2 separate regions of the Homo sapiens genome follow, and region 2 is reported to be linked to region 1. The links are microRNA targets in miRTarBase. Many come from high-throughput screens and were not tested one by one. Region 1 holds a microRNA gene; the other region holds the end of a gene's coding sequence.
The links. The annotated mature microRNA hsa-miR-6882-3p reads UGCUGCCUCUCCUCUUGCCUGCAG and lies in region 1 at 2,577-2,600, opposite strand. An mRNA with a match to its seed (bases 2 to 7 or 8) in the 3' UTR can be bound and repressed. Matches are read on the target gene's strand: a 7mer-m8 pairs with bases 2 to 8, a 7mer-A1 pairs with bases 2 to 7 and ends in A, and an 8mer does both.

Region 1 (4,236 bases):
CAGAGGGAACCCAAAGAGGTCCCCACAGGTAAGAGCAGAGAAAGGGGAAGAGGAAGCCCCCCAACCCTCTCAAGCTCAGTGGGCACCTCAGTGTGAAGCAGCTCCCGCCTCCGGCCCGGGGGCTCCGCTGTAAAGAGAGGGTGTGTGGTGAGGACAGGGTGGCCAGAGGCCCTGTGGGGGGCATAAATGGGGGCCCTCACCTGCCAGCAACAGCAGTAGCTCCCCCAGGCTGTGCTGGTACAGGTCCAGGGCATCCTGCTCCCCGCCGGCGGCCTCCTCCTGCAGCCACAAGGACACCAGGCTGCTTAGGGTCATGGCCTGGGTATCTCCCTGCCCTGCCCCGACCCACCTGGACCCCTCCCACTGGCACAAACCTTGGCCATGGCAGCTGAAGCCACTTCCAGGGCAGCTAGGAGGCGTGGCTTGTCCCGGGCCATCTCTGAGATGAGGGGAAAGGCTCAGGGTGAGGGAAGCAACCTGCCTGTTCGCTGCAGGATGCCTCTCCCCACCCGCCTCCCCCTCAGGCTGTGGGGAGGTTTGCTGGGGGCCCTGGGGTCAGCCAGAAACCGGAGTCTACCTCTGAGCAGGTCTCGGGCAGAGGTCCCCTGCCTCAGCAGGGCCTGATTGGAAGAGGAGACGATGGCCTTGAGCTCCTCAGCCCGGGACACGTACTGCCCCACCTGTAGCAGGGAAAGGGCCTGAGGAGGGGCTGTCTCACCAGCTACCCTTGCCAGAACCCACCTCCAAGTTCTCCCTTTGCATTGTTAGTGACTGCCTCAAGCTATAAACATGTCAGGGGGCAAATGTGGCTGGCCTGACCCATTCCCAGCTCTGTGTTGCAGGAGAGGAAGTTCCAATTCTAAGAGAGCCATTCCCCAGAGGCCCCCGAGATCTCCGGGCCTTACCCCCTGCCCCCCCACTTCCTCATGGGGACTCTCACCCACCTTTGCCTTAATTGCCTCCTTCCGCTGGGCATCCACTTCATCTGCAGAAAGTGAGGTCATATGAGGAGTCTGGGCGAACCCCTCCCTGCCCCACAACGAACCCTCTGGAATCCCTCAAAACACAATATTCCAGGTTTACGCTCTGCTTTATCGCCTACAAAATTCTAGATAGAGAACTTCTGGAATCCACCTACTGCAGCCACAGATGACTCCCATCCCTGCTGCACCCACGGGCTTCAGGCATGGCCTGGGACTCACAGTGCAGGGCAGGTACAAAGAAGTCCAGAGCCTTGCAGTAGAGTGATAAGGCAGCTGCTGAATCCCCCTCCTGGTCTTTCTTCACAGCCTGCACCACCAGGGCGGTCTGGGGATGGGCAGATCAGGGGTCAGGTCCACCTCCCTACCCTCCCACACTCACCAAGATGGGAGATCAGCTCCCCTGAGCCCGCCCTCTGTCTCTGTTGGGTGAGTCACCAATTCACCACCAACGGGGGCAAGGAGACCTCCAGCCCACCCTCAGCCCACCCCAGCCCCAGCCGTCTGCTCACTGCTCGCCCCAGACTCTCCCCACTGGGCATGTGCTCCAGGTCCACCCAGGGGTGCGCAAAAAAGTCCTGGAAGGAGATGCGACGGCTGGGGTCCCGCTCCAGGAGCCGCTGCAGTAGGTCCCGGCAGTCTCGGGAGAGCAGGGGCCGCAAGGGGAGCTGCAGGGAAGGGAACGGCAGGGACAGATCACACTGGGCTCCTCCACCCCTACCCCTAGCCCAGGGGTCTGCGAGGAACCCCAGAGGTACGCGTTGGACAGGTGGGGAATCTGAGACCGAGGAGGAACAGGATGGGTCAGGATGATGGAGCCAGCGGGGAGCGAGGCCTCCATCCCTGGGCTCCCGGTGCACCCTCGCTGGAGCCCTGAGCTGAGCTAGAATCGTGTTTCTGGGTCCTTATTTCCCTCCCTGGACTATGCTCCTAGGAAGGCTGGGCCTGGCTCTGCTTTGCATTCTCCCCACAAGGGCCTGCAAAATGGGCACTGTGCTGCCAGCTGTGGGCTGACCTGAGGCCCTGGGACAGCCTGGCACCTCGACTTCCAGCCTAGAACCTGCCCCTCCACCACAAAGGCAGCCTGGAGCCCATACTCCAGTCTCTGCAGGTCAGAACGAGGTCTAAACCCTCAGGGCCCTGACTCCCTCTGCCCCCCAGTGGTCGCTAAGGCCCTGCTAGACACACCTCGATGACCCGGTTGCTACGGATCTTCTCTTCCAGCTCCGAGAACGACCTGGAGGCAAAGGGGGGCTGCCCGAAGAGGGCTTCTGTGGAAGGGAGGCAGAGCGGAGGCTGGGAGGGAATGGGTCAAGCCTGGCCTGACGCCCCTCAGCAGGGGCCCTGGGCCAGCAGTCAGTTTTCATCAGAACCCTTCAGAAGTGGCCCAGAGAGGCCTTGCCTGAGGAAACTGTAGGCCTCAGGGTGAGAAGCAGGGAAAAGAGGTCTCACCATACAGGATGACCCCCATGGACCAGAGGTCCACGCGGGCGTCATACTGCCGCTGGCACACCATCTCGGGGGCCATGTAGAGGGGGGAGCCACGGAGCACGTGCTTCTCATCCCACGGGGACATGTGTTGTGCGAAACCAAAGTCTGCAGGCAAGAGGAGAGGCAGCAGGGCTTGAATTCCAGCTGCTTCAGCTCCTGACTTGTAAAGCCTCACCCCAGGCTCCTCTCCACCCTCCAGACCCGCCAGGATCAACCCTATTTCCAAGCCTCTGCTCATCATTAGGCTGGAACACCCTCCTATATCTGCCTCTGGGGTATAAAACCTACCCATCCTTCCCAGCTCCCTTGGGCACCTTTTCCTAGGAAGCCCACCTGATCACACCAGCTACCTGCATAAGCCCCCACCCTCTCACTGTCCCCCCAGGCTTAGGTTCTATCACAGTCTCTGGCCTCCAGTGTCAATTATCCAAATCTTATCAAGGGTCACCACCTCCTACTCCCCCACCACACCCCTCCTATGTGGCCACAGATGGAGTCACAGACTTGAGCCCCAATTCTGATGACAGACCAAGTCCTGTCCCTGCCCACAGAGGGATCCCTGATGCTTGTCACACGCTGAACCCTGGCACTGTTCCCAGATTGACCCCTAAACCTGGACACACAGTGAGTCCCAACTCTGGCCACAGACTGAGCCCTAACTCCACCCATTATGCTGCTGGACTTGAGCATGGGTAGCCTGAGAAAGCTTCCACCTTTTGATGACAGGGCCCAACCCCAGACTTCACGGCCTGTCACTCTTTGAGGACTCTATAGAGGGCTCCATAAGAACCAGGGCTGCTGAGTGAGCCCAGGCAGAGGGAGGCCTCTGCACTCTCCAAACCTCATCCCTGCTGTTTCAGACACAGACCTGCCAGTTTTAGGTGGGGCTTCTCCAAGGAGCTCAGTAGAATGTTCTGTGGCTTCAGATCCAGGTGAGAGATATTCCGTTCATGCAGGAATTGCAGGGCGCTAGCTGAGGAGCAGGACCCACGAAGAGAGACAGTTCAGAGCCCATTCCCGCCTGCCTCTCGCCTCCCCGGCTCACATCTGCCTCCTCAAGCCTGCACAACCCCAGTTCCTGCCTGGCTGGTCTAATGTTTTCCATATAAGCACCAAGATCACACCACTTCTAGGAGTTTGCCACCCCACCCGAGTGCCCACCCTCCTTCCCTCTGCCCCTTCACAAGTCTCCCCACCTCTCAGAAGCTTCTCTGGATGCCCCAGCCCTTGAGATCCTGCTCTTTTCCTTGGCACAGCACTTGAGTCCTACCTACAGGACTCTGGAATGTTCTACAAGGTCCTTATATTATGTTCTATGTATGGAAGCCTGAACACCCCACAGAGGGGTTACCCCCTCATCTCTCCCACAGCGTCCTTGAGCAAGGGTTGAGTGTATGAGATAAACAGGACCATAAAATTTCAGGCTGTGCAGGAGGCAGCTGCAATGCGTGCCAAGGCTCTAAGCCTGGGGGAGGGGTGGGATGGTGGGGGGCAGAGAACAAGGGACAGAGTGTCAGGCTGGTGTCACAGGCCTTTACCTAATTGCTGCATGAAGACACGCGCCACCTTCTCAGGCAGAATCCTGCGGGTATGGATGAAGCGAGACAGGTCGCCCCCTGCGCAAAACTCCATGATGAGGTAGATATTGTCACTGTCCCACTGTGTTTAGAGGCAGAGAGGCGGCCTGAAGAGAGTGTCCCTTCTCCAGCTCCCTTTGGCAGCGGCCCCGCCCCAGGCTCACACCTGAAAGTCTTTCAGCTGCACA
Region 2 (3,680 bases), not on the chromosome of region 1:
TAGAAACTTGGTCTGAGAGTTATGGTCTAGTAGACCTGGAATCCACAATGTAAAAGTTGGCCAGCTCCTGGCCATATATCCTAAAAAAGAGCTGGCATGTTATTGGGAAGATAAAGTGGGGGAAATCTGGCTTACTGGGCCCTATAGTAATGCTGTCTATGTATGTGTGCTCTCTCAAAAACAGGTAAAGTCCTTCCTGGGGTGGATGCTCTCAGCAATATTTAGTACTTTCCTGCCTTTTAGTTCCTGTGCACAGCCCCTAAGTCAACTTAGCATTTTCTGCATCTCCACTTGGCATTAGCTAAAACCTTCCATGTCAAGATTCAGCTAGTGGCCAAGAGATGCAGTGCCAGGAACCCTTAAACAGTTGCACAGCATCTCAGCTCATCTTCACTGCACCCTGGATTTGCATACATTCTTCAAGATCCCATTTGAATTTTTTAGTGACTAAACCATTGTGCATTCTAGAGTGCATATATTTATATTTTGCCTGTTAAAAAGAAAGTGAGCAGTGTTAGCTTAGTTCTCTTTTGATGTAGGTTATTATGATTAGCTTTGTCACTGTTTCACTACTCAGCATGGAAACAAGATGAAATTCCATTTGTAGGTAGTGAGACAAAATTGATGATCCATTAAGTAAACAATAAAAGTGTCCATTGAAACCGTGATTTTTTTTTTTTTCCTGTCATACTTTGTTAGGAAGGGTGAGAATAGAATCTTGAGGAACGGATCAGATGTCTATATTGCTGAATGCAAGAAGTGGGGCAGCAGCAGTGGAGAGATGGGACAATTAGATAAATGTCCATTCTTTATCAAGGGCCTACTTTATGGCAGACATTGTGCTAGTGCTTTTATTCTAACTTTTATTTTTATCAGTTACACATGATCATAATTTAAAAAGTCAAGGCTTATAACAAAAAAGCCCCAGCCCATTCCTCCCATTCAAGATTCCCACTCCCCAGAGGTGACCACTTTCAACTCTTGAGTTTTTCAGGTATATACCTCCATGTTTCTAAGTAATATGCTTATATTGTTCACTTCTTTTTTTTTTATTTTTTAAAGAAATCTATTTCATACCATGGAGGAAGGCTCTGTTCCACATATATTTCCACTTCTTCATTCTCTCGGTATAGTTTTGTCACAATTATAGATTAGATCAAAAGTCTACATAACTAATACAGCTGAGCTATGTAGTATGCTATGATTAAATTTACTTATGTAACTTTTATTGTCTTTGGCATTAACAGTGTTTCAAAAAATTTTCTGTGTATACCCATCAGTGATTCATTCCCAAATCTTCTAGAAGCATAAGTGTCTCAATATATTAAAACATATTGAATAATCCTTGTTAGAGTTATCCCTGCAGGAGTCCTTAGTGCTCCTTTATCCAATTTGTACTTGATGCCCTCTAGGCAGGGTGTACAGCTAGCTGTTGCTCTGGTATTTCCTATAACCTTCTTGGGGATTTCTTTTACCTCCTGTGTTAGACTCCTGTTTTCTGGATTCCCCCTTTTCCCTCTTTCTTGGTCTACTTTTTGTAGAACACAAGACTCTACTAGCTTCCTGAGAAAGGGTGCCTGGGAGGCAAAATCTCTAAGACTTTGTAAGTCTGAAAATGTCTTTATTCGACCCTTATACTTGATTCCTAGTTTGGCTATATATAGAATTTTAGCCTGAGTATCACTTTTTGAGACTCGAAGCCACTGTTTCATTGTCACTATTGAGAATCTAAATGGCCATTCGGATTCTTTCATCATCTTTATAATTTTACCTTCCTATTTCTTTCCTGTCCTTTTAATGGAGTTTTGGGAGAGAGCAGAGGTAAACATGATTTGAAAAAGCCATGTCTGACCAGAAATTCTGTGCTGGAAAGATATGTATTTCACCTTTAGGGACAAAGAAATAAACTTTTGGACAGGACCACAGAGCTAGTAAGTAACAGCAGGGATTCAAGTCCAGGTTTGTCTGGTTCCAGTGGCTGATGCTTTTCCAATGTGCCTCCGTCCCTGACATGATGCTTCTAGGCTATAGATGCTTCTAGACTCTATCCCTGACATGATGCTTCTAGACTATTTTGTTTAACCCTGGATAGAATAGCAAAAGAAAATTTTGGTGGTTGCTCTAAACAAAACAGAAATTTGAAAGCTCAAGTTTTTTCTTCATTTGTATTTTAGTTAATACTGTACCCATATTTGTAGTTAATTTTAAATTGTACCATGTTTCTGCATACCTCTATGGGTACTCAGGAATTCTAGTCCAATTTTTGTGACTTTTTCCTACTGATTACCTTTCCTCCAACGTTTTAAAAATTATTTCAAATGGAACTGAAAGAAGCATAAACTCCCATAAACCCAGCACCTAGACTCTACAATTGCCAACATTATCTATCCAACAATCTCTGACTGTACCTTTTAAGTACTTTCTACTGGACTGTTTCCAGGATCACCCCTCATTTATTTGGGTTGTTAACCTAAAGAATGAATGGGGGAATCTCCAGTCATAAACAACTTGTCAATTAGGCAAATATTTGAGTTCCTTCTATGTGCTTAAAGACGTGATAGAGGGAATATAAGAGCATTTATGTTCTGAAGGAATTTTTAACCTAACCAAAGAAGATAGTAGATAACTTGTGTGCATATAAGCTAGAACAGTATAAGGGGCCGGGCATGGTGGCTTACGCCTGTAATCCCAGGACTTTGGGAGGCCAAGGCGGGCAGATCACCTGTCAGGAGTTTGGGACCAGCCTGGCCAACATGGTGAAACCCCGTTTCTACCAAAAATACAAAAATTAGCCGGGCGTGGTGGCGTGTGCCACTGTAGTCCCAGCTATTCAGAAGGCTGAGGCAGGAGAATCACTTGAACCCGGGAGGTGGAGGTTGCAGTGAGCTGAGATCACGCTACTGCATTCCTGCTTGGGCGACAGAGTGAGACTCTGCCTCAAAACAAAAACCCCACAAAACAGTATAAGGATGTGCTTTCTAATTTGGAATTATGAATTATTGGTAAAATATTGCAAAGGTGTATGCTTTAAGTTGTAAATTCACCTTTAACCCTAGACTATATATGTGTGTTTATATGCAGAAAAAAATAATTCCCATGTCGTAAGTGAACAATTTGGTTCTTTAGCTCAGTGTTTTCCTGTTTTCTTCATTTCCAAAATTTCCCTCTAGCACAGGGGTTTACACATGATCAAAAAGGAGTATACAATGAAGACACCTTCCTCAGTCCCCTACCTACCAGTTTCCCTCCCCAGAAGCAACCTCTGGAAGACCAGTTTCTTTCAATCTAAGGCTATTTAATATACATTAAGAGGCCGGGCGCAGTGGCTCACGCCTGTAATCCCAACAACACTTTGGGAGGCCCAGGCAGGCGGGTCATGAGGTCAGGAGATTGAGACCATCCTGGCTAACACGGTGAAACCCTGTCTCTACTAAAAATACAAAAAATTAGCTGGGCGTGATGGTGGGCGCCTGTAGTCCCAGCTACTCGGGAGGCTGAGGCAGGAGAATGGCGTGAACCTGGGAAGCGGAGCTCGCAGTGAGCCGAGATCACGCCACTGCACTCCAGCCTGGGCAACAGTGAGACTCTGCATAAAGAGCATACCCATGTGTGTACCTATCTATCTATCTATCTATCTATCTATCTATCTATCTATCTGTATATAGATATATTAAAATGTA

Region 2: miRTarBase lists PGK1 as a target of hsa-miR-6882-3p. Seed matches in the 3' UTR shown: 7mer-A1 at 764-770.

What each region holds. Positions count from the first base shown.
Region 1 is chr15:74,838,066-74,842,301 of GRCh38, forward strand. MIR6882 (microRNA 6882) reads right to left here and starts at 2,642; the gene lies at 2,577-2,642. It overlaps ULK3 (unc-51 like kinase 3), which reads right to left. Exons shown (of 16, transcript NM_001099436.4): 2 at 4,215-4,236; 3 at 4,010-4,130; 4 at 3,340-3,444; 5 at 2,433-2,576; 6 at 2,169-2,251; 7 at 1,493-1,648; 8 at 1,203-1,308; 9 at 945-985; 10 at 578-680; 11 at 375-439; 12 at 201-279; 13 at 87-127. RefSeq lists a silencer at 1,461-1,608 and an enhancer at 4,085-4,236.
Region 2 is chrX:78,125,606-78,129,285 of GRCh38, forward strand. PGK1 (phosphoglycerate kinase 1) reads left to right here. Exons shown (of 11, transcript NM_000291.4): 11 at 185-3,680. The coding sequence ends at 225. Among named protein-coding and RNA genes, the nearest start is that of TAF9B, 12 kb to the right of the region's middle.